Linked DNA regions of Homo sapiens: regions 1 and 2 are each linked to region 3. Evidence: fine-mapped expression QTL. A gene starts in region 3. Each other region holds a variant in brackets. All regions are shown on one strand. Distances are between the middles of the regions.

The links. PIP is the estimated chance that this variant, and not a neighbour inherited with it, causes the effect.
Region 1: its variant is fine-mapped to the expression of PATJ in aorta (GTEx, PIP 0.95).
Region 2: its variant is fine-mapped to the expression of PATJ in lung (TOPMed, PIP 0.95).

What each region holds. Positions count from the first base shown.
Region 1 is chr1:62,146,948-62,155,127 of GRCh38, forward strand. PATJ (PATJ crumbs cell polarity complex component) reads left to right here. Exons shown (of 44, transcript NM_001350145.3): 42 at 1,337-1,443; 43 at 6,411-6,534. Among named protein-coding and RNA genes, the nearest start is that of L1TD1, 44 kb to the right of the region's middle. The variant T/TA (reference allele first, on the strand shown) is at 3,869.
Region 2 is chr1:62,165,302-62,173,481 of GRCh38, forward strand. No RefSeq gene overlaps it. Among named protein-coding and RNA genes, the nearest start is that of L1TD1, 25 kb to the right of the region's middle. The variant CTG/C (reference allele first, on the strand shown) is at 3,310.
Region 3 is chr1:61,737,984-61,746,163 of GRCh38, forward strand. PATJ (PATJ crumbs cell polarity complex component) reads left to right here and starts at 4,497. Exons shown (of 44, transcript NM_001350145.3): 1 at 4,497-4,572. It overlaps PATJ-DT (PATJ divergent transcript), which reads right to left and starts at 4,801. Exons shown (of 1, transcript NR_185910.1): 1 at 4,015-4,801. RefSeq lists a silencer at 4,249-4,958.

The sequences.
Region 1 (8,180 bases), 410 kb after region 3:
TGCAGGGAGCAAAGCCTCCATTTTAGACATGTTAGCTTTGAGATTCCTGGAGACGTCCCATAGATGTCTATGGACCCAGTGACAACTGGATCCATATATCCAGTTGTGACATCCAGTGGGTGACTGGATATATGGATCTGGTGTTAGGTAAGCATTGGAGCTAGAGGTACAGATTCAGGGATTATCATCACTTAGATGGCATTTACATTCATGAGATGGATGGGATGGGATATGGGATGGGATGGAATGGGAGACAATGGGATGGGATAATATGTTTAATGGAAAAGATAAGAAGCTCAAGGACTAAGCCCTGTGGCCCTCAGTTAGAGGTTTAAATAATAGAAGGAATGGCCAGAAGTGTGGAAAATAAACTAGTGAATTGTGGTGTCATGGAAGCCAAACGAAGAAATGAAGAAAATAGTTGAAGGCCGGGCACAGGAGCACATGCCTATCTATAATCCCAACACTTTGGGATATCGAGACGGGCGGATCACTTGAGCTCAGATGTTGGAGACCAGCCTGAGCAACATGGCAAAAACTCCCTCTACAAATACAAAAAAATTAGCCAGGGCTGGGCTTGGTGGCTCACGCCTGTAATCCCAGCACTTTGGGAGGCCAAGGTGGGCGGATCACCTGAGGTCAGGAGTTCAAGACCAGCCTGGCCAACATGGTGAAACCCCGCCTCTACTGAAAATATAAAAATTAGCTGGGCGTACTGGCACTCGCCTGTAGTCCCAGCTACTCGGGAGGCTGAGGCAGGAGAATCACTTGAACCCAGGAAGCAGAGGTTGTAGTGAGCCGAGATCGTGCCACTGCACTCCAGCCTGGTGACAGAGCGAGACTCCGACTAAAAAAAAAAAAAAAAATTAGCCAGGCATGGTGGTGGGTGCCTGTAATCCCAGTTACTCAGGAGGCTCAGGCAGGAGAATCATTTGAACCCGGGAGGCAGAGTTTGCAGTGAGCTGAGATCGCGCCATTGCACTCCAGCCTGGGTGACAAGAGTGAAACTGTCTCAAAAAAAAAATTAGCAGGGCCTGGTGGTGCATGCCTGTGGTCCCAGCTACGTGGGAGGCTGAGGTGGGAGGACTGCTTGAGCCTGGGAGGTCAAGGCTACAGAGAGCCAAAATCATGTCACTGCACTCCAACCTGAGCAACAGAGTGAGACACTGTCTTTAAAAAAAAAAAAAAAAAAAAGTTTGAGAGAATAGTCCTTGTGTCAAATGGTCTAGATAAATTGAATAAGATTAGGATTGAGAACTGACCCTTGGATACAGCATGGTTTCTCTAATTCTCCCCTTCTTTATAATGAAATACCTTTTTTTCACTTTTTCCCCAGGTTGTAGCAGATACCAATATAAGCGCCATAGCAGCTCAGCTTGAAAACATGTCTACAGGCTACCACCTTGGTTCGCCCACTGCTGAACACCATCCAGAAGACACAGAGTGAGTATTTCAGATGCAGAGGGCCTATTATGCATGTGGGCAAAGCTCGGAAGAACTTTTCCAGACACTCAAGTGCACTCTAAAGGAGAAGTGGCCAAAGCGCCCGTGACTTTTTCTAAATTCTAGGGAATCCTTATTTCTCACAAGGCTTAATTCCACCACATGAGTTCTTGAAAGACCATTGTTGCAGGGCCTGCACACACACTGCATCTGGTCACTTTGACACAGTGCCTATGCCTGCTTCCCTAAGAAACCACGGATGTATAGCCCAGGTGCACGCTGCTTTATTGTGCAAGGAACCACGTTTCCTGAACTTCTAGGCTAAAATCTTGTTCTGAGATGAAATCTTGTTGTTATACTTGCTGACATGTTTCATTAAAACCAGTCATCGCAGTTAAAGTTGTTCATTAAAGCAGGGTTTCTCAAACTAGAATATGCATAAGAGTAATCTAAGGGCCGGGCTCAGTGGCTCATGCCTGTAATCCCTGCGTTTTGGGAGGCCGAGACGGGTGGATCGCCTGAGGTCAGGAGTTCGAGACCAGCCTGGCCAACATGATGAAACCCTGTCTCTATTAAAAATACAAAAAATTAGCCAGGCGTAGTAGCGGGCACCTGTAATCCCAGCTACTTGGGAGGCTGAGGCAGGAGAATTGCTTGAACCCGGGAGGTGGAAGTTGCAGTGAGCCAAGATTGCACTACTGCACTCCAGCCTGGGCAACAAGAGGGAAACTCCATCTCAAAAAAAAAAAAAAAAAAAGAGGAGTAATCTAGGGAGCATGTTTAAAGATGCGAATTCCCAGGCCACATCCCAAAATTCTGACTAGGTGGTCTGTGGTGGATTCCAGAAACCTGATGTTAACAAGTTTCCCAGAGTGATTCTGCTACAGATGGGCAAAGGATCTACACTTTGAGAAATGCTGCCTAAAGCTATTCCTCTCAGGTACCAGCAGTGCCTGGTCACTAGTAGGTGCTCAATAAATGTTTGTTGACAAATCTGGATGGTTCATTTGAAGGATCTCATGGTCATAGCCCGTCCCAATTTTTTCCTGGTAGTTCCCCACCTAAATGACATCTTTGAGTTTATTTTTCTTGAGGAAAGAATATTAAATTAAGCTCATTCTACCTTTTTCTCATTATAAAAGTTAATACATGCATGCCATGAACATATGACAACACATAGAAATATAACATTTTTCAAATTACGGTGGCCTTTTCCTTAAAAAAAAAAAAAAATCAGGACCTTTATAGGAAGTACAGCGTACCTTTAGCATCCTTTGATGTGGCTATGGAAATACAGAGATCCCCTTGTAATCTTAATTCCTTTGCTATAATTCCATGCCTCTGGCAGGCTGGGAACCACAAGCTTAAAGGAATTTAAAAATCACTCATAATCCCACCACTGCTAACACTGGGATTTTTTTTTTTTTTTACTAGCCTTCTATATGAAAGTAAATTTAAACTAATTGGTTGAAAATGTTATGATATTGTGAGATCAATAGAGGCAAATTCCATCTGATGTTGCCAGTTGAGGAGTAGAGCCACACTCCTCCCTCTTCCCCTGAAAACATGTCCCTGAGTATAGATAGGCACAATTATAAGGGTCTTTAATGATTTGATGGCCACAGGAGGTAGCTCTAAAGCAATGGCTTTGGGCATCTAGCTTCTCATTCCAGTATCTTTGGAAATGGGGGCTGTGTTTGAAAGAAGAAACATGAATCGAATTTGTATCCAGCTGGTGAGCTGTTACTGAGAGTGCTTGTAAGGCCACAAAGTGGGGAAAAGTAGAGCCTTATTCATGAGTCATAATCATTCACCTATAGGGGGCAATTCATCAGTATCTCAACAGATATTTATTGAGCACCATTCTAAGGCCAGACACTTAGATACAAGTGCTAGGTCCTGAGGACTCAAACTTAGAAATGTAAGTAAAGATATTGCCCCAGTCCCCAGAGAGCTGCCAGAGAAGTGGAAAAACAGACCCATAAATCCATAGTTATAAAAGATAACTGTAGGAGAGCTAAATTCATTGAGAGAGGGTCCTGTGAAACCATGGATATGGGGCATAACTCAGTTAAGGAGTGTAGTTGGAGAAGCTGATGCTTAAGCTTAAGAGAACTGGAGCCAGTTTTAAGAGAACTGGATCCAGCATAGTGGTGCATGCTTGTAATCTCAGCTACTAAGGAGGCTGAGGCAGGAGGATCACTTGAACCCAGGAGTTTGAGGCTGCAACGGGCTGCAGTTGTGCCACTGTACTCCAGCCTAGGAGACAGAACAAGACCCTGTCTCAAGAAAAAAAAAAAAAAAAAAAAAAAAGAATTGGAATAAACAGGTGGCATTCAAAATAGTTAAGTGTGGTGGCTCACTCCTGTAATCCCAGCACTTTGAGAGGCCAAGGCCTGGGCAACATGGTCAGACCCTGTGTTTA[T/TA]AAAAAAATGTAAAGACAAACAAAACAGTTAAAAACAGTTAACAAGGCCGGGCGTGGTGGCTTACGCCTGTAATCCCAGCACTTCGGGAGGCCGAGGTGGGCAGATCGCCTGAGGTCAGGAGTTCAAGACCAGCCTGACCATGGAGAAACCCCATCTCTACTAAAAATACAAAATTAGCCAGACGTGGTGGCACATGCCTGTAATCCCAGCTACTCGGGAGGCTGAGGCAGGAGAATCACTTGAACCCGGGAGGCAGAGGTTGCGGTGAGCCAAGATCACGCCATTGCACTCCAGCCTGGGCAACAAGAGTGGAACTCTGTCTCAAAAAACAAAACAACAACAACAAGAAAAAGAAATCAGTTAACAATTTATATAGCATAGATCGTCAGCAGTAACTATGGATGTCTGCTGTAAACAAACAGTAAGTACATCAACAAACAACTGGTAACAATGTGAACCAGCTGAAAACCCTTTAATAAACCCAGCAAAATTGGCCAGGCGGTGGCTCACGCCTGTAATCCCAGCACTTTGGGAGGCTGAGGCGGGCAGATCATGAGGTCAGGAGATCGAGACCACCCTGGCTAACATGGTGAAAAACCCCGTCTCTACTAAAAATACAAAAAAATTAGCCAGGAGTGGTGGCAGGCGCCTGTAGTCCCAGCTACTCGGGAGGCTGAGGCAGGAGAATGGCATAAACCCAGGAGGCAGAGCTTGCAGTGAGCCGAGATAGCGCCACTGCACTGCAGCCTGGGTGACAGAGCGAGACTCCGTCTCAAAAAAATAAATAAATAAACCCAGCAAAATTGAGGAGGGAGAGAGGGAAGAATATTCTAGTTAAATAGAACAACATATTCAAAGATTGCTTGTGTCCCCATTTTGCAAATTTCTCTAAGTACATGAATGGCTGAGTTTATATGAGATGACTTCGCCTCTCAGACATGCATGTTGCCACAAAACAAAGGATGCTGCCAGTACACGAATATGAACTACCTATCATAAATAAGACAGGGTCTGGGTTTCTGCCTTTTGAGCAATAGCATTTGGGAATAAGAAATTGGCATCACCTAAACTTAGATTAAGATTAAATTACTGGGAGCCCACATAGGTAATTTAATTTTTAGCCATGTTGTTTCTAAGAGAGAAGACTTCCACACTGGATGAAGCTTTGAAAAGCTAAATTTTACATTTGAAACAGATTTTCTTTCTCCATTTTGTTTCACCTTGGTTTCTCTCTTCTCTCCTGGATTTCAGTTCTCATCTACACAGTCATGATCCTGAGTTTCTGACAAGCACCACACATGGTACTGGGAAGTCTCAGATGACTAAGACAAAGAGGTTATAGTCTGGTAGAGGAAATGGATGGCTAAGTAATTACAATATGATACAGTCAGTGCCAAAATGGAAATTTGGACTCAATGTAGGGGAAGCACAGAAAAGGCTGTGGGACCCATCCTCCCAAGGGAGGCAGGAGAGCCTCACATTGGAAGTGAGTTTGGAGAATGAGTTCCTGCCTTAGGTGGAAGTGGCCAGGGCGTTCCGGCAGAAAAGGAGCAGCAGTCTGAGTGCGGCAGCTCACGCCTGGAATCCCAGCACTTTGGGAGGCGTCAGGTGGATCACCTGAGGTCAGGAGTTCGAGACCAGCCTGGTCAACATGGCGAAACCTCATCTCTACTAAAAATACAAAACTTAGCTGGGCATGGTAGTACACGTGTGTAATCCCAGCTACTAGGAGGCTAAGGCAGGAGAATTGCTTGAATCCGGGAGGTGGAGGTTGCAGTGAGCCAAGATTGTGCCACTGCACTCCAGCCTGGGTGACAGAGCAAGACTCTGTCTCAAAAGAAAAAAAAAAGGTAAAAGAAAAGGAGCAGCAGTTTCCTGAGCTGCGAGCTGATGTTATCTGTTATGGACAAGAGTTTATGTGAAGACTGGCAGTCTCCCACCACACTAGGAGACACGCTACCTCTGTCTCCATGCACATGCTTCAAGGATGTGACGACAGCTTCCTTCAGCTGTCAGCAGTAAGTTTAAAAGTTAAAAACTGGCCGGGTGCAGTGGCTCATGCCTGTAATCCCAGCACTTTGGGAGGTAGAGGCAGGCAGATCACTTGAGGTCAGGAGTTCGAGATCAGCCTGGCCAACATGGTGAAACCCCATCTCTACTAAAAATACAAAAATTAGCCAGGTATGGCACACACCCATAGTCCCAGCTCCGTCTCAAAAAAAGAAAAAAAAAAGAGTTAAAAACTAAGCATATAGAAGAGTGCTTTGACAATTTCAGCATCATGACTTTATCTTTAATTAGCAATCAGTGAGTTTTATGAAAGAGAAACCTCTAAAACATCAAGAATATTGGTGATTAATTAGCATGACATGAGAAGTTAGAAAATAACTTTCTAGATTGCTTTCTGAGAGTTTGATCTGATAAACCAAACTTCATAGTTTTGCAGTATGAAAGTCTCTCTCAAATCTGTATTCTTCCAATTAAATGAAATTCCCTCTCAATATCTATTCTCGAATTAAACAGCATGCATTGTGTTTTCAGAACACCTCCACCTAAGATTATTACTTTGGAGAAAGGCTCTGAAGGCTTGGGGTTTAGTATTGTAGGGGGTTATGGAAGTCCCCATGGAGACCTGCCAATTTATGTCAAGACTGTATTTGCAAAGGTATATCTTCTTTTTTAATGTACTTTTTTAAAAAAATTAAACCTAGGTGAGATTTCTTTTAAGTGCTTTGCTTTGCTTTACTTTGGGTCAAACCTGGATGTGTGCATGTATGCTCATTTCATTTGAATCTTATAGGAAATTCTCACACAGGAATAGTGGGAGAAGAGTTCTTTTACAATGGCGGAGTCACAAGAAGTGCAGTCTCCTTTGGATTCTGTGACAGAAGCAGATGCTCACAGATTTTTAGAGTGTCTTCTTTCAGCAACACAGCATAAGGAGCAGTGCCACTCTTTAGAAGGTGTCCTTGGAAGTATTGTTCTGAGCTAGAACAAAAAAAAGATTTGGCTTTCTTCTTGAAAATAACAGGCACCAGGGGGCTGAGGCAGAAAGGTTTGTGCTGTGCAAGCCTCGAATCAGTGCATTCTTTATTTTATTTTTTGAGAGGGAGTTTCGCTCTTGTCGCCCAGGCTGGAGTGCAATGGCTTGATCTCAGCTCACTGCAACCTCTGCCTCCCCGGGTTCAAGCAATTCTCCTGCCTCAGTAGCTAGGACTACAGGCGCATGCCACCACGCCTGGCTAATTTTTGTATTTTTGGTAGAGACGGGGTTTCGCCATGTTGCCCAGGCTGGTCTCAAACTACTGAGCTCAGGCGATCCACCTGCCTCGGCCATCTAAAGTGCTGGGATTATAGGTGTATGCCACTGTGCCCAGCCTGAGTAATTATTTTTAACTTCACTGATTTTTTTAATTGGAATTTAATTTTTTATAAATTTTGAAGATCTCTGAGAAGTATTTCAAATTGATACTACAGTTTTTTTTTCTTCTTTGGTTTTATCATAGTCATTTGTTTATGAACAGATCTTGTTGAACTGCTTTGTTTTCCTAAAGAAATAAAGGTCTTCGAGGCTGGGCATAGTGGCTCACGTCTGTAATCCCAACACTTTGGGAGCCTGAGGTGGGTGGATCACCTGAGTGCAAGACCAGCCTGGTCAACATGGCAAAACCCGTCTTTACTAAAAAACACAAAAATTAGCCGGGCATGGTGGCACATGCCTGTGATCCCAGCTACTTGGGAGGCTGAGACATGAAAATCCCTTAAATCTGGGAGGCAGAGGTTGCCATGATCCCAGATGATGCCACTACACTCCAGCCTGGGCAATCCATCTCAAAAAAAAAAAAAAGAAAAGAGAGAGAGAGAGATAAAGGTCTTTGAAAGGAGAAATAAGAAGGAATCTGTCTCTTTCCAGAAAGCTAAACTATACATTAAATACAAGCTTGCTTTTACCTGTGCAGATCTTAGATCTTATCACCTGTTAATTGGGCCCAGTGACCTGCCATAAAACCCTTTAGTCATTTGGCATTTACTTTTGGACCACATTGAGCAGCTGCACATTTACCCCCTTCCTGCATCTTGCTAGAATGCCTAATAAGGCATGTTATTCCCAAACAACCTGTTAAACTGGTGATAGGCAAAAGAGGAGCGGAAAGGCAGCACAGAAACATTCTGGGTAGCAGAATGCTTATCCCCAAGGTAGATAAACCATAAACTGACCATCCTTCTCCTATGACACATTTAACACCCTAAGTTCTTGGGATAATTATTCTTTGGAGGGCATTATTATACTTTGCTTTTGAAATAGCCAGC
Region 2 (8,180 bases), 430 kb after region 3:
TTCCTTCCTTCCTTCTTTCCTTTCCTTTTTTCTTTTCTTGTTCTTTTTTTTTTTAAGACAAGGATCTTGCTATGTTGCCCAGGCTGGCCTTGAACTCCTGGGCTCAAGCAATCCTTGCACTTCAACATCCTGTGTAATTGAGACTGCAAGTGCACGCCACCTTGTCTGGCACAACTAAAATTTTTTGCACCCAATTTTCTTAATTTTATGTTTTATTTATATTTTTTCTATTAAAGTCAACCAGAACAGTGAGTTTTTTTTTTAACACAAAAATTTAAATTTAGGTTATAGTCTCAGTTGTATGCCAGCCTAGTGCAAATGTTAAGTTTTTGACAGCTTGACTTTCAATCTTCAGATGCTCTATATTTAAGTAAAGATAAAAAAAAAACATTTCACTCTCTACACAATCCCAAGATAAACTGACATTTGGAAGAGTCATGTGTGTGTGTGTGTTTGACGGTGTATAAAAGACTCTCACCCCTGCCTTGCCTGAGCAGCATATCCATTTCCAGTCATGTGAAGGAGGAAGCAAGAAAGTTGCTTTGGTCTTGGGTCCCTGAGAGATTGCTGTTGGGTATCAGGACCTATGCTTGGCAAAATTATACAGGAACAAACATGTATCTGATCCTCCTTCTAGAATCAGTTTTTTTGAAATGGAGGCAACCTCAGAACTGGGAGTCGGTCCTGCCTGCTACACCACTCCTCCCATTTTACAAGTGGGAGACGCGTGCCAGAGAAAGGAAGTGACTATCCCAGTCCCCCACTAGCTTGCAGTCCTAAGAGTTTTCCAATAAACCTTAGTGGGAATTCACCAACTTAGCAAACTACGGTAGAGTACTCACACATGGCTACTAAATTAGTTCGAAATATTCTCGAGAGCTTTTTTTTCCTCTTTTGAGTCAGGGTCTCACTCTGTCACCCAGGCTGGAGTGCAGTGATGCAATCACGGCTCACTGTGGCCTCAAACTCCCCGTCTCCAGTGACCCTCCCACCTCAGTTCTCCAACTGGCTGGGACTACAGGTGTGCGACACCACGTCTGGCTAATTTTTTTTTTTTTTTTTTTTAAACTTTTTGTAGAGATGGGGCTCTCGCTGTGTTAAGACTATTTTTAAGGGCAGTTTTGGCCAGGCACGGTGGCTCACACCTGTAATCTCAACACTTTGGGAGGCCGAGGTGGGAGGATCACTTGAGCCCAGGAGTTTGAGACCAGCTTGGCTAACATGGTGAAACCCCATCTCTACAAAAAATACAAAAATTAGCCAGGCATGATGGCCTGTGCCTATAGTCTCAGCTACTCGGGAGGCTGAGGTGGGAGGATTGCTTGAGCCTGGTAGGTTGAGGCTATGGTGAGCTGTGTTTGCACCACTGCACTTCAGCCTGGGTCACAAAGTAAGACCCTGTCTGCGAAAAAATTTCAAAAGGCAGTTTTAAGTTAACAGCAAAATTGCGAGGAAGGTGCAGAGCTTTCCCACATACCTGTGCCCTCACTCACACAGCCTCTCCCATTATCAACATCCTCCACCAGAATGGTACATTTGCTACAGTGAATGAACCTATATTGACACATCATTCTCACCCAAACTCCATAGAGTACCTGAGGGTTGAATCTTGGTGATGTACATCCTATGGGTTTGGACAAATATATGATATGTGCCTACCATAAAGGTATATGGAGTATTTCCACTGCCCTAAAAGTCCTTTGTGTGCTCCCTATTCTTCTCCAACCCCCTTCCCAACCATGGAAACCAATTTTTTTTTTTTTTTTTGAGATGGAGTCTCTCTCTGTCTCAGAGGCTAGAGTGCAGTGGCACAATCTTTGCTCACTGCAACCTCCGCCTCTCAGGTTCAAGCGATTCTCCTACCTCAGCCTCCTGAGTAGCTGGGATTACAGGCGTGCGCAACCACACCCAACTAATTTTTGTATTTCTAGTAGAGACGGAGTTTTGCCATGTTGGCCAGGCTGGTGATGAACTCCTGGCCTCAGGTGATCCACCTGCCTCGGCCTCCCAAAATGCTGGGATTACAGGCGTGAGTCACGGCACCCAGCCCGTCTTCCATGTCTTTTCATGACTTGATAGCTGATTTCTTTTTAGCACTGAGTTATACTCCGTTGTGTGGATGTACCACAGTTTATCCATTTACCTACTAAAGAACATTTTGGTTGCTTCCAAGTTTTGGCAATTAGGAATAAAGCCACTATAAACATGTGTGTGCACAGCCTGAATTTGTAAGTTTATTTCAGTTTTCCCTCAACACAACCACAAGATTTGGTTCCACAATACAAGCACAAGATTTAAAAAAGATTAAAATAAAGAGTAGAAGAAAACAAACAAATGAAAAAAGGACACATCTTTTGGATGTAGACAAAGAAGACCTAGTCTATCCACTCACCGTATATCTCCACATCCTGGGAAGAATTTCCAAGGCCAGGCACTCTGGATACCCTCCCCCCTCATGGTTTAAACCTTCTTCTTCTCTAGATAGACATAGTTGATGACAGATGAGGTGTTTCAATGGCTCCTCCTGCCTAATGGCTTTACTGGGCATGCCCCCAGCATTACTCTCCCAGGAGAACAGAAGAAACGGTAATGTCTTAAAGGGACTCCATCATTCAACTCCTCTCAACCCCAGAGCCATGTGTTACTCTTTGGGGAACTTCAGGATAGCTGTCTGAAAACAGTCCAGGGAGGCTAAAGTGGAGGATCACTTGAACCCAGGAGTTCGAGATCAGCTAGGGCAACATAGTGAGACCTGATCTCCACAAAAAGTAAATTAGGCTGGGCTCAGTAGCTCACATGTGTAATCCCAACACTTTGGGAGACTGAGGTGGACGGATTGCTTGAGCACAGGAGTTTGAGACCAGCTTAGGCAACATGGCAAGACCCTGTCTCTACAAAAAACACAAAAATGAGCTGGGCCTGGTGGCACACCTGTAGTCCCAGCTACTCCGGAGGCTAAGGTGGTAGAATCACCTCAGCCCAGGGATATTGAGGCTGCAGTGAGCCTTGATCGTGCACTACAGCCTGGGTGACACAGTAAGGCCCCTATCTGAAAAATAATAAATTACTTAAAAAATCAGCCTGGCACAGTGGCACGCACCTGCAGCCCCACCTACTTTGGAGGCTGAGGTGAGAGGATCGCTTGAGCCTGGAAGTCGAGGCTGCAGTAAGCGATGATCACACACTGCACTCCAGCCTGGGCAACAGAGTGAGACCCTGTTCCTCCTCTCCCACTCCCCCCAAAAAGAAAAGAAACATACTCCAGTGGCCCCCATGCCATGAGGAATAAGATTCACCTGTTCTTAAAGA[CTG/C]AGAGCAGAAACTTCCTGTCCAACATTGTATTAGTTAGTGTTCTCCAGAGAAACTGAACCGAGAGGATTTGTATGTATTCAGAAAGATTTATCATAAGGAATTAGCTTTTGCAGTTACGGATGTGGGCAAGTCCAAAATCTACACTGTGGGCCAGCAGGCTCAAGACCCAGAAGATAATTTTCTGTGAAGAATGTTTCACAGCTGGGCATGGTGGCACGTGCCCGAAGTCCCAGCTACTCCAGAGGCTGAGGGTGGGAGGATCACTTGAGCCCAGGAGGCAGAAGCTGCAGTGATCTGAGATGGCGCCACTGTACCCCAGCCTGGGAGAAAGATCGAGACCCTATCTCAACAACAAACAAAGCAAACAAAAAAAGGAACATTGATCTCATCCAAAAACACCCTCCAAATTCACAGATCAAGCATCAGACATCATGAGACCTTGAACAGACCCCTCTAGGGACGGCCTTGCCTTAGGGAAAGTGCAGAAGTGTCCACTATCCTTGTTTACAACCCCTTTCCAGCCTCCCGCCCCCTCTGGTGTCCACAACTGTGGTGCAGTCACCATCATCACTTCTACCATCCCAGAACCCTCAGGAGCAGATGGCTTGAGATCTTGCCTCTGCCACCCCACCACCCAAGGACCCTAAGTATTTGTATACCTAATTAGGTGGCTTCTCAGTGGACTCAGGGTCAAGTCTAAACTCAGCATGGATGTTAGGCTCTTCATAATTTAGCTTCCACCTTAACCTCCAGCAGTCGTGTTAACTCTCGTCTCACTAAGCACTTATCCCAGGATAAGCCGGACTCTCACACCCTTAGGCCTTTGCGCACACTATCCATTGGCATAGACAGCACTGCTGCTCAAGATGTGACTGCAGACCACCATCATCAGCATCACCTAGGAGAGGTGCAAATGTATGCCCTAGCCTAGACCAACTGCATCAGAATCTCTGGGGTAGGGCCAAAAAATCTGAGTTTTAACAAGCTCTTCTGGTGATTCTAAACACTAAACTTTGAAAGCCTGGAGAACACTCCCCTTTTTTTCCAGTCTGTGGTCATTCACAAATTGCCGAGTTCTTTTCTGCCTCCAGTGGCTAAAGGCAGAAAGAAACACAAGGCTCCTTCCTTGCTGCCTTGCCACTGGAGGTATTTTACCTGTTAGAACCAGTCTCAGACTGAGTCTGCACCTGTACGAACTTTTTTTTTTTCTTGAGACAGGGTCTCACTCTATTGCTTGGGCTGGAGTGCAGTGGCGCGATCATGGCTCACCACAGCCTTGACCTCCCAGGCTTAGGTGATCCTCCCACCTCAGCCTCCCCAGTAGCTGGAACTACAAGTGCATGCCACCACACCCACCAAATTTTTTGTACTTTTAGTAGAGACAGGATTTCGCCATGTTGCTCAGGCTGGTCTTGAACTCCTGGGCTCCAGTGATCTTCCTACATCAGCCTCCCAAAGTGCTGGGATTACAGGCGTGAGCCAGCACACCCAGACTGAACTTCTTTCTTTTTTTTTTATTAAAACAGGGTCTCACTCTGCCACCCAGGCTAGTGTGCAGTGGTGAGACTAGGATTCATTGCACCCTCGACCTCCTTGGCTCAAATAACACTCCTGCCTCAGCCTGCTGAGTAGCTAGGACTACAGGTACACACCACCACAGTGGGCTTTTTAAAATTTTTTGTAGAGACGAGGTCTTACTATGTTGCTCAGGCTGGTCTAAAACTCCTGGCCTCAAGCGATCCTCCCACTCAACCTCCCAAAGTGCCAGGATTACAGTTATGAGCCACCATGCCCAGGTGTATGAACATTTGTTAGCAGACAGGTACAACACACAGCCCCACCTGTCCAAAAAGCACAAACCTGACAGGGTGCGGTGGCTCATGCCTGTAATCTCAGCACTTTGGGGCCGAGGCGGGTGGATCACTTGAGGTCAGGAGTTTCAGACCCGCCAGGCCAACATGGTGAAACCTCGTCTGTACTAAAAATACAAAAATTAGCCGGGCTTGGGGGCGCCTGTAAATCCCAGCTATTCGGGAAGCTGAGGCAGGAGGATCTTGAACCCGGAAGGCAGAGGTTCCAGTGAGCTGAGATTGCACCACTGCACTCCAGCCTGGATGACAGAGTGAGACTCGGTCTCAAAAAAAAAAAAAAGAAATAGCACAAACCTGCTGCTCTTTTTAGGGCAGTGGTTCTTAACCTGGGCTATTCATTCAAATCACCTGGGGATATTTTAAAGGCTCAATGCCCAAGCACACCCCAGAGTAGGGGGAGAAAGGGAGAAATCTAAGAACCGGTATTTTTTTTTTTAAAGCTCCTCAAGGAGTTACAGGAAATTTCACTCCCAGGCAAACAACATTCAGACTTGAAGGGGTGGCCAGTCCCTCCACACCTGTGGGTATTTCTAGTTGGGTGGGACGAGAGACTGAGAAAAGTAAGACACAGAGTCAAAGTATAGAGAAAGAAAAGTGAGCCCAGGGGACCGGCGCTCAGCATACCAAAGACCTGCACCGGCACCGGTCTCTGAGTTCCCTCAGTTTTTATTGATTATTATTTTCACTATCTCAGCAAGAAGAATGTGGTAGGAGAGCAGGGTGATAATAGGGAGAAGGTCAGCAACAAAACATGTGAGCAGAAGAATCTGTGTCATAATTAAGTTCAAAGGGAGGTACTATGCCTGGATGTGCAAGTAGGCTAGATTGATGTTTCCCTCTGCCCAAACATCTCAGTGGAGTAAAGAATAACAAAGCAGCATTGCTGCCAACATGTCTCGCTTCCCGCCATAGGGTGGTTTTTCTCCTATCTCAGAATTGAACAAATGTACCATCGGGTTTTATACCGAGACATTCAGTTCCCAGGGAAAAGGCAGGAGACAGTGGCCTTCCTCTATCTCAACTATAAGAGGCTTTCCTCTTTTACTAATCCACCTCAGCACAGACCCTTTACGAGTGTCGGGCTGGGGGATGGTCAGATCTTTCTCATCCCACGAGGCCATATTTCAGACTATCACATGGGGAGAAACCTTGGACAATACCCAACCTTCCAGGGCAGAGGTCTCTGCGGCTTTCCGCAGTGCATTGTGCCCCTGGTTTATCGAGACTAGAGAATGGCGATGACTTTTACCAAGCATACTGCTTGTAAACATTTTGTTAACAAGGCACATTCTGCACAGCCCTAGATCCCTTAAACCTTGATTTCATACAACACAGGTTTTTGTGAGCTTAAGGTTGGGGCAAAGTTACAGATTAACAGCATCTCAGGGCAAAGCAATTGTTCAGGGTAAGGTCAAAATGAAATTTCTTATATCTTCCCTTTCTACATAGACACACTAACAGTCTGATCTCTCTTTTCCCTATAAGACCTTTTTGCTTTTTTTTTTTTTTTTTTTGAGATGGAGTCTTTCGCTCTTGTTGCCTACGCTGAAGTGCAATGGCACGACTTCTGCTCACTGCAACCTCCGCCTCCTGGGTTCAAGCGATTCTCCTGCCTCAGCCTCCCGAGTAGCTGGGATTACAGGCATGCACCACCATGCCCGGCTAATTTTGTATTTTTAGTAGAGATAGGGTTTCTCCATGTTGGTCAGGCTGGTCTCGAACTCCCGACCTCAGGGGCCTCAGCCTCCCAAAGTGCTGGGATTACAGGCGTGAGCCACCAGCACCTGGCCCAATATTCAGATTTTCTATCCCATCAGATAACCAACTAACTCTTCCGGAAGAGATGAGACCTTGAGAGAGGGAATGCAGAGCTGAGAATTCCAGACCTAAAGAGCTACCTGGAAGGTACTGGTCTTTAGACCCTAAGTCGCTGTTTAATCATCTTCATAGGCTAGAAATGAAGTCAGTCCAGGCTTGGGCCACATCCTCCCAAACTCACTCTCTTCCTTCCAACTTTCCACTGTAGCACTGCAGCTGATTGTCTCTGGAACCATCCAGACCAATGGAGAAAAACATGTTCATTTAGCTGAGTCCTCAGTAGGAACCAGACAGGAGGGGAGGGAAGGCAGAAAAGGCCTGGCTGTAGTGCAAGCATTCCTGACCTCCAGTGTGGCCAGAGCCTCAGAAGGTCAGTTTCAACCCCAGCCAGGTTATTAACTGACAGTACGGGAAGGTGGACGTGATCCTCATACCTGTTGGTGCTTTGTCTCTGACTATGACCAGGTTCCATTGCCTTCTAATCCCAGCTTTTCCATTGGCCAGTTAGATCCATTTGCCTGGCCTGGACATTGAGCAACAAGATACAGATGTGAGGGTTTCAGGGTTTGGCCATGGATTTCAGTCCTCGGGTGCCCCCCCGCCCCCACCCTGCCCATATCCTGCTCCTTTCCAATGTCTGCACTCTGAAGGAGACTTGTTGCTAGAATTTATCATTTTGAGTACTCTAAGTAAGATTGCTATTATAGGATACACTTAGAAAATGCTAGCAGAGGCCGGGCACGGTGGCTCACGCCTGTAATCCCAGCACTTTGGGAGGCCGAGGCGAGCAGATCATGAGATCAGGAGATCGAAATCATCCTGGCTAACATGGTGAAACCCCGTCTCTACTAAAAAATACAAAAAATTAGCTGGGCGTGGTAGCGGGCGCCTGTAGTCCCAGCTACTCGGGTGGCTGAGGCAGGGGAATGGTGTGAACCCAGGAGGTGGAGCTTGCAGTGAGCTGAGATCGAGCCACTGCACTCCAGCCTGGGTGACAGAGCAAGACTCCGTCTCAAAAAAAAAAAGGAAAACACTAGCAGATTTAGTGGTCGTTTTTTTTTTTTTTTTTTTTGAGATGGAGTTTCCCTCTTGTTGCCCGGGCTGGAGTGTGATGGTGCAATCTCGGCTCAGTGCAACCTCCACCTCCCGGTTTCAAATGATTTTCCTGCTTCAGCCTCT
Region 3 (8,180 bases):
ATTTTTAAAATTTTAAATTCCAAATGAGAGCCAAAAAAAAAGTTTACATTAAATTAACACAGACCGAGTATAGTGGCTCACGCCTGTAATCGCAGCATTTTGGGAGGCCGAGGCACTTTGGGAGCACTTTGGGAGCCCTTGAGCCCAGGAGTTTGAGACCAGTCTGGACAACATAGAGAGGCCTTGTCTCTAAATATAAAAAATTTAAAAAATTAGCTGGGCATGGTGGTGCATGTTTGTAGTCCCAGCTTCTCAGGAGGCTAACATGGGGGAATGGCTTGGGCCCAGGAGTTCAAGGCTGCAGTGAGTTATGATCTCACCACTGCTCTCCAGCCTGGACAACAGAGTGGGACCCTGTCTCAATTATTTATTTATTTTTCTTTTTTTTTTTTGAGATGGAGTCTTGCTCTGTTGCCCAGGCAGGAGTGCAGTGGCATGATCTCGGCTCACTGCAACCTCCGCCTCTTGGGTTCAAGCAATTCTCCTGCCTCAGCCTCCTGAGTAGCTGGGACTACAGGTGTGTGCCACCACGCCTGGGTTATTATTGTATTTTTAGTGGGTTTTCCCCACGTTGATCAGGCTGGTCTTGAACTCCTGACCTCCGGTGATATACCCGCCTCGGCCTCCCAAAGTGCTGGGATTACATTCATGAGTCACTACACCTGGCCTGAAAAAATTAATTAGTTAATTAACAACACAAAGGAAGAAGGGTGGTTGGTGAGGTAAAATTAATTAACAGCACAGAAATGTAGAGAAAATCAGGTTAAAACTGATAGAGATGATGTTTCCTGGGGTGGCCAGGGAGGCAGCTTTTCAGAAGGGGTTAGACTTGAGTCTAGCCCTAGAAGGAGGGTAGGGCTTACAGAACATTCCAGGCAGGGGAAAGTGGGTAGGTAACGAACAGAAAAGCCATTGGTGTTCCATGGATATGGAATAGATAAATTTGCTCAGAGTAAGATCCTCCAGAGGTGAAGTGGAGATTAGGTTGAAGAGTCAGCAAGAAGGGGCCGGGCACAGTGGCTCACGCCTGTAATCCCAGCACTTTGGGGAGGCCAAGGCAGGCAGATTACCTGAGGTCAGGAGTCTGAGACCAGCCTGGCCAACATGGTGAAACCCCGTCTCTACTAAAAATACAAAAATTAGCCAGGTGTGGTGGCAGGCGCCTGTAATCCCAGCTACTCAGGAGGCTGAGGCAGGAGAATCGCTTGACCCCGGGAGGTGGAGGTTGCAGTGAGCTGAGATCACGCCATAGCACTCCAGCCTGGAATGCGAGACTTTGTCTCAAAAAAAAAAAAAAAGAAAAGAAAAGAGTCAGCAAGCAGGGGAGAGTTTGAAGGGCCTTGAATAGCAAGAAAAGGAGTTTGGACTTGGTTTCATGGTCAACTTAAAGTTACATAGCTTTTTGAAAATAGGGGAATATGTTCACAACATCATTTAATATTAAAGTAAGAAGAGGCAGGCTGGGTGTGGTGGCTCATGCCTGTTATCCCAGCACTTTGGGTGGCCGAGGTGGGTGGATCACCTGAGGTTAGGAGTTTGAGACTAGCCTGGCCAACATGGTGAAACCCATTTCTACTAAAAATACAAAAATTAGCCAGGTGTGGTGGCGGGCGCCTGTAATCTCAGCTACTCAGGAGGCTGAGGCAGGAGAATTGCTGGAACCTGGGAGGCGGAGGTTCCAGTTGCACTCCAGGGTAGGGCCAACAACAGCGAGACTCTGTCTAAATAAATAAATAAGCCAGTCATGATGGTGCATGCCTATAGTCCCAGCTACTCGGGAGGCTGCAGTGGGAGGATCGCTTGAGCCTAGGAATTTGAGGCTGCCATGATTGCACCACTGTGCACCAGCCTGGGTGACAGAGTGAGACCTTGTCTCAAAAAAAATTAATTAATTAAATAAATACAAAATAAAATAAGAGGAGGCCAGGCATGGTGGCTCATGCCTGTAATCCCAGCACTTTGGGAGGCTGAGGCAGGAGGATGGCTTGAGGCCAGGAGTTTGAGAGTAGCTTGGGCAACATAGTGAGACCATCTCTCTACAATAAATAAATAAAGAAGAGGTGCAATAGCCAGGTGTAGTGGTGGTGCCTATAATCTCAGCTTTTCAAGAAGGATATTAAGGTGGAAGGATTGCTTGAGTCCAGGAGTTTGAGGCCAGCCTAGGTAACATAGTGAGATTCAATTTCAATTTAAAAAATAAATAAATAAAAATAAATTTAAAAAGAAGAGACCAATGTTTGCAAGGTGATTCTTTGAGATAATTGGTCTCCACCTTTCTTTTTTTTCCTATTTAATTTTTATTATAGGTTCAGAGCTACATGCACAGGTTTGTAGGCCAGGTGCAGTGGCTCACGCCTGTAATCCCAGCACTTTTGGAGGCTGAGGCGGGTGGATCACGAGGTCAGGAGTTTGAGACCAGCCTGGCCAACGTGGTGAAACCCCATGTCTACTAAAAATACAAAAAATTAGCCGGGTGTGGTGGCTGGCACCTGTAATCCCAGCTACTCAGGAGGCTGAGGCAGGAGAATGGCTTGAACAGGGAGGCAGAGGTTGCAGTGAGCTGACTGTGCCACTGCACTCCAGCCTGGGCAACAGAGCGAGACTCTGTCTCAAAACAACAACAACAACAAAAAAACCAGGTTTGTTACATAGACAAATTGTAGGCCATGGGGTTTGATATACAGATTATTTCATCACCCAGGCAATAAGTATAGTACCTGATAGGTAGTTTTTCAATCCTCTCCCTTTTCCCACTCAATCTCCAACTTTATTTTGCCCCCGACTTGGAAAGCCTTTCCTTCTCCATTTTACCTAAATTAATCTCAGACTCTGGTTAAGACCTGTTTAAGTTCTAACCCATGCTTTCAAAAAACATAATAGATCTCTTCATTTTCTGAGGTCTGGCTTCCATCTGGCAATTTGCCTGTTATTTCCCTCAGTAGTTTGTTAGTTCCTAAAAAGCAGAAACCATGCTGATATTGTGTGTCTTCTTACCATGACTAACAAGTGTTACATTTCTTTTAAAACAAGGAAGCAAACTACAAAGCACCAAGTGCATGATCTTAATTTTATTTATTTATTTATTTATTTGAGATGGAGTCTTGCTCTGTCGCCCAGGCTGGTCTTGAACCCCTGGGCTCAAGTGATCCTCCGACTTCAGCCCCACAGAGTAGCTGGGACTACAAGCTCACGGCACCACTCCGGGCTAATTGTTGTTGTTGTTGTTGTTGTTGTTTTTGAGGCGGGGTCTCTCTCTGTCACCCAGGCTGGAGTGCAGTGGCAGGATCTTGGCTCACTGCAACCTCTGCCTCCTGGGTTCAAGTGATTCTCCTGCCTCAGCCTCCTGCGTAGAGGGGACTACGCATCCACCACACCCGGCTAATTTTTGTATTTGTAGTAGAGACGGGGTTTCATCATATTGGTCAGGCTGGTCTCGAACTCCTGACCTCGGGTGATCCACCCGCCTCGGCCTTCCAAAGTACTGGGATTACAAGCGTGAGCCACCGCGCCCCGCCTGAAAGTCTTTATGTTGTAGTTGTTTTGTATCTATTCCTCATCTTCCTGGGGACAGGGATACCATTTTACACATCTTCCCACAATCAATCACAGTGTTTAACAATTACTGTATGTACTCTATGAATAAGATACCTGAAGATTGATTCTCTTTATCGTTAATGTGTGGACTGTATCAGGCAAAGTAAAACCCCTATCATCAAAAGCCTAAAGTTATTAAAGGGAGTGGAAGAAGGCTATCGGGACATATTTTTCTCGAAGGTGTGACATCACAAATAAAAGAAAATTAACGTATAGTGAAATCATCACTGTAGTTAGAGTCAAAATGCCTTGCCTGTGTTCCAAACTTTGGGCCAGTCAACCTACAGGGTGCACGGTTTCCTCATTAGTTTCTTCAGAGAGTAAATGAGACATTGCATAAGCTAGCACCTAGCATACAGCAGGCAAATACTGCTGGATTTCTTTCTTCCACTAAATGAGAAGAAAATAATGACTCCCACATTTACACGTTTTAGAATATTTTATTTTGCGTCAGCGAATAGAGAAAACAAAGGAGGGATGAGAGAACAGGAAAGGAAAGGGGCAAAAAGACAAAGTGTTAAGCGGATTGACCCAACGCTTTCATCGATATCCTCCTCAATTTCCTTGATCTTGGGTCTCGCTCTACACGCAGGCCTCCAACCACACCGGTCTGTCCGGATCTCCCTCCCCGTCAGTGGCGGCTGTCCCCACCACGCGCGGTCTGATCCGCCACCCCGCCCCCACAGCCCACTTTTCCCAGGCCCTTGGCCATCCCGCGCCCGGTAGGAATTCACCTGCACGTAAACAGCCAGGGCAACCGTCCTCCCTCCTTGGAGCCCGCCTCCCGCGGCCCCGGGCTCCCTCCCCCGCCCCCTGCGCCACCCCGGTGCCCCGCCCCGGGCGGGGAGAGTCGGGGCGAGGGGAGGGCCTGCCAGGTGAGGCGCGGTCACCCTGGGCCTCTCACTTCCGCCCAGGTGAGGCAGGGCCGACACCGAGCCCGCCCGACCCGGGCTCCCACCTGCTCCTCCAGCGCACCAGGTAAAGCGTGAGGTCCCGGCTGTGCAGTGCGCGCTCGCCCCTGGGTGTCCCCGCGCCTGGAGGCCGGCCGGGGGCAGCTCCCTCGGGGCTTCCCGGGCCTGCCTGCCCTGCCCCCGCGCTCTCCCCGCCCGCCCGCCTGGAGTGGGTGGGAGCCGGAGGTGGAGGGCGCCGCCGGGCGCTCAGAGGGGCCGCGGCGAGGATGGGGCGCCCGCGGCGTGCGTCCGCGCTGACCCGGGAGGCGGGGCGGGGGCGCCGTCCTCCTGCGTCGGGCCCGGGTGACCCCACGGTGGTCCCCGCCCCGCCGCGCAGGGCTCGCCGAGGCCGCGGGCAGGGAGGGGCGCCGCCCCGCCTCCCCAGGCCTTTCGGGCCTCGAATCTCGGCCCACTGGTATTCGGGGGTGGCACGGATCCTATTTTGCGCCCAGATCGGTGCCCCTGTTTCGCTCCCAGAGCTGGGCGGAGTCTTTCCCTCCATCGGTGGCCGTGGAAGGAGGGAACGGGGTGAGGGGACAAAGAGGAGGGGGTGCTCAGAGCCGGGCTGAGGGGGCGACTTGGGCCCGGCCGCGTCGCGGCGCCTGGTCATCCCGTAGCGGAGGTTCCCAAGCCAGCGGTCAGGCCCTGGGCTCTGCCAGCCTTGCTGCGTAGATGGGGAGGTTCTGTCGGAAAGTGCTTCCAGCCTTAGGGGAAATTCCTGGACTCCTGCTTTTAAATCAAGCTCAGGAAAGCATTTTCAGATCACTCCCACTCTCCAAAGCGCCCCAGCCGTCCCGCACGCAGGCCGAATTAAGTGAACACCCCTTCACTTGGCACTTTGTCATATTTCCAAGTGGCTCTTGTCACTTTGAATTCCAGTTGGTTGTTTACTGGCTTGCCTCTGCCATTTAGAGGGTGCCCCTTTCAGGGCCTTATTTTTCGACTGCATTTAGGGTCTGGCTATTGGTAGGTGCGCGACAAGTGTTTCTTAAAGGAAGGCAGAAGCCTTTGGAAACCCAGAAGGACAATGTCGGTTCCACTGAGGATGATACTACCACATTCTGGGCTAAATTCCTATTGGCTGCAAATTAATTTGCACACATCTATTTGAAAGGAGTGGAGGCAGGGGCAGCGGTTAAAAACTTAAATCTGTTTGCAGCATTAGAAAATGTTAGGTGAGATTGAGCCTTTTAGCTAAAGTGAGCTTTGATGTTTTTAGGGCCCCTAATGGCCTTTAAGATGTTAACAATAACAACAACAACAAAACACTCCAAATGTGTTGAATTTATTTGGGAATGAGAAATGAGCGTTATAGCCCGAGGTGCACAGGCCTGGCAAGCCATATATGCATGGAAGAGGGGAGGGTAAAAGGAAACTTTTATTGGCAAAGTAAGTGCAGATAAGCTGCGTGAAAACAGAGTTTATTGGTTTTGCAGACTGAAAGCCAGAGTTGGCCATTGTTGAAGATGCCATTACTGGGCAGGTGTTATGGAGAGCATCTTATCAGGCCTGGCAACCTGCCTCATGCCTGTTATCTCAGCTACTTAGGAGGCTTAGGCAGGAGGATCGCTTGAGGCCAAGAGTTGGAGACCAGCCTGAGCAACATGGCTGTCTTTACAGAAAAAGCTTTTTAAATAGTCAGGTGTGTCGGGAGGTTGAGGCAGGGGAATTGCTTGAGCCCAGGAGATGGAGGCTGTGGTGAGTGGTGTTTGCACCACTACACTCCAGCCTGGGTGACAGAGCAAGAACCCTGTCTCAAAAAAAAAAAAAAAAAAAAAAGGAAAAAAGATTATCTTATCTTATCTTATCTGAATTACTGCATTCCTAAAGAAAGAATTTCTTGGGTGGTTATTTTAGTTCCTTCTTGAGACCGATCTTTATCTCAGACTTGCAAGCATGAGCTTTCTCCCTCAGGCTCTCTAGTTTGTTTGGGTTTGACAAAAAGTGATTTTGACCTGGTATCTGCAACTTTCACAAAGATAATAACAAAGTTAATAAATATGGAAATACTTATGGATAGAACTTATAAAATGAGTTCTGAAGAGATTTGCCCTTACTAGTCCAGATCCTATTAGGAGTAAGAGAAAAAACACAAACTTTTTCCTCTGCTCTCACACCACTACAGTCAACACTGAGGACTTCTGTGACCAAATAAATGTGTGGGCCCATCAGTTCTGCATCAAGCAATAGCTGAGCATCTAACAGTTCGATTCTGAAACTATTTACCTGGGGATAGTGTCAGATCCCATAAGACTGCCCTCACTTCTGATGCCAATCACAAGTCCTAGATTGTTTTACCCCGGCTTCTGACTAACCACCTATAAATTGGGAATCCCATAACTCCCTCCTCTGGGTTGGTTAACTTGCTAGAGCAGCTCACGGAACTCAAGAAAACACTTATTTAGGTTTATTACTAGTTTATTATTAAGAATATTACAGAGGATACAAGAGGAAGAGATGCACAGGGTGAGGTATGAGAAGGGGCATGCCACCCTCCAGGAACCTCCATGTGTTCAGATATTGAGAAGCTCTCCCTACCCCATCTTCTTGGGCTTTTTATGGAGACTTCATTGAGTAGACATAATTGAAGCATGGGGTAGGGAAACCCAGCAATGCCTATCTGTTCAGATTTTTCTTGGCCTCTCTCTGTAGCATTCCTTCCTCCAGGGTATGGGCAGGACCCCTTCTTATGGGGGTCTTATGACCTACAATCAGACAAGGGAGATCAGATAATTTTTTTAAATATTTATTTATTTATTTATTTTGAGACAGAGTCTTGCTCCGCTGCCCAGGCTGGAGTGCAGTGGGTGATCTCAGCTCACTGCAACCTCCACTTCCCGGGTTCAAGTGATTGTCCTGCCTCAGACTCCTGAGTAGCTGGGATTACAGACATGTGCCACCATACCTGGCTAATTTTTGTATTTTTAGTAGAGACAGGGTTTTACCATATTGGCCAGGCTGGTCTCGAACTCCTGACCTCAAGTGATCCACCTGTCTTGGCCTCCCAAAGTGCTGGGATTACAGGCGTGAGTCACTGCACCTAGCCAAAATTATTTTACTTTATTTTATTTTAATTAATTAATTTATTTATTTGGAGACGGAGTCTTGCTCTGTTGCCCAGGCTGGAGTGCAATGGCGCTGTCTTGGCTCACTACAACCTCTGCCTCCCAGGGTCAAGCGCTTCTCTTGCCTCAGCTTCCCAAGTAGCTGGGATTACAGGCGCCTGCCACCACACCTGTCTAATTTTTATATTTTTAGTAGAGATGGGGTTTCACCATGCTGGCCAGGCTGGTCTCGAACTCCTGACCTCAGGCGATCCACCCGCCTTGGACTCCCAAAGTGCTGGGATTACAGGCGTGAACCACCGGGCCTGGCAATTATTTTTTTTTTTAAAAATTTTTATTCATTTATTTTATTTATTTATTTTTGAGACAGAGCCTTACTCTGTTGCCCAGGCTGAAGTGCAGTGCCGCGATCTCCACCCACTGCAAACTTCACCTCCCTGGGTTCAAGCGATTGTCCTGGCTCAGCGTCACAACCTCAGGTGTGCGCCACCACCACTGGGTAATATATATATATATATTTTGTATTTTTAGTAGAGACAGGGTTTTGCCATGTTGGCCAGGCTGGTCTCGG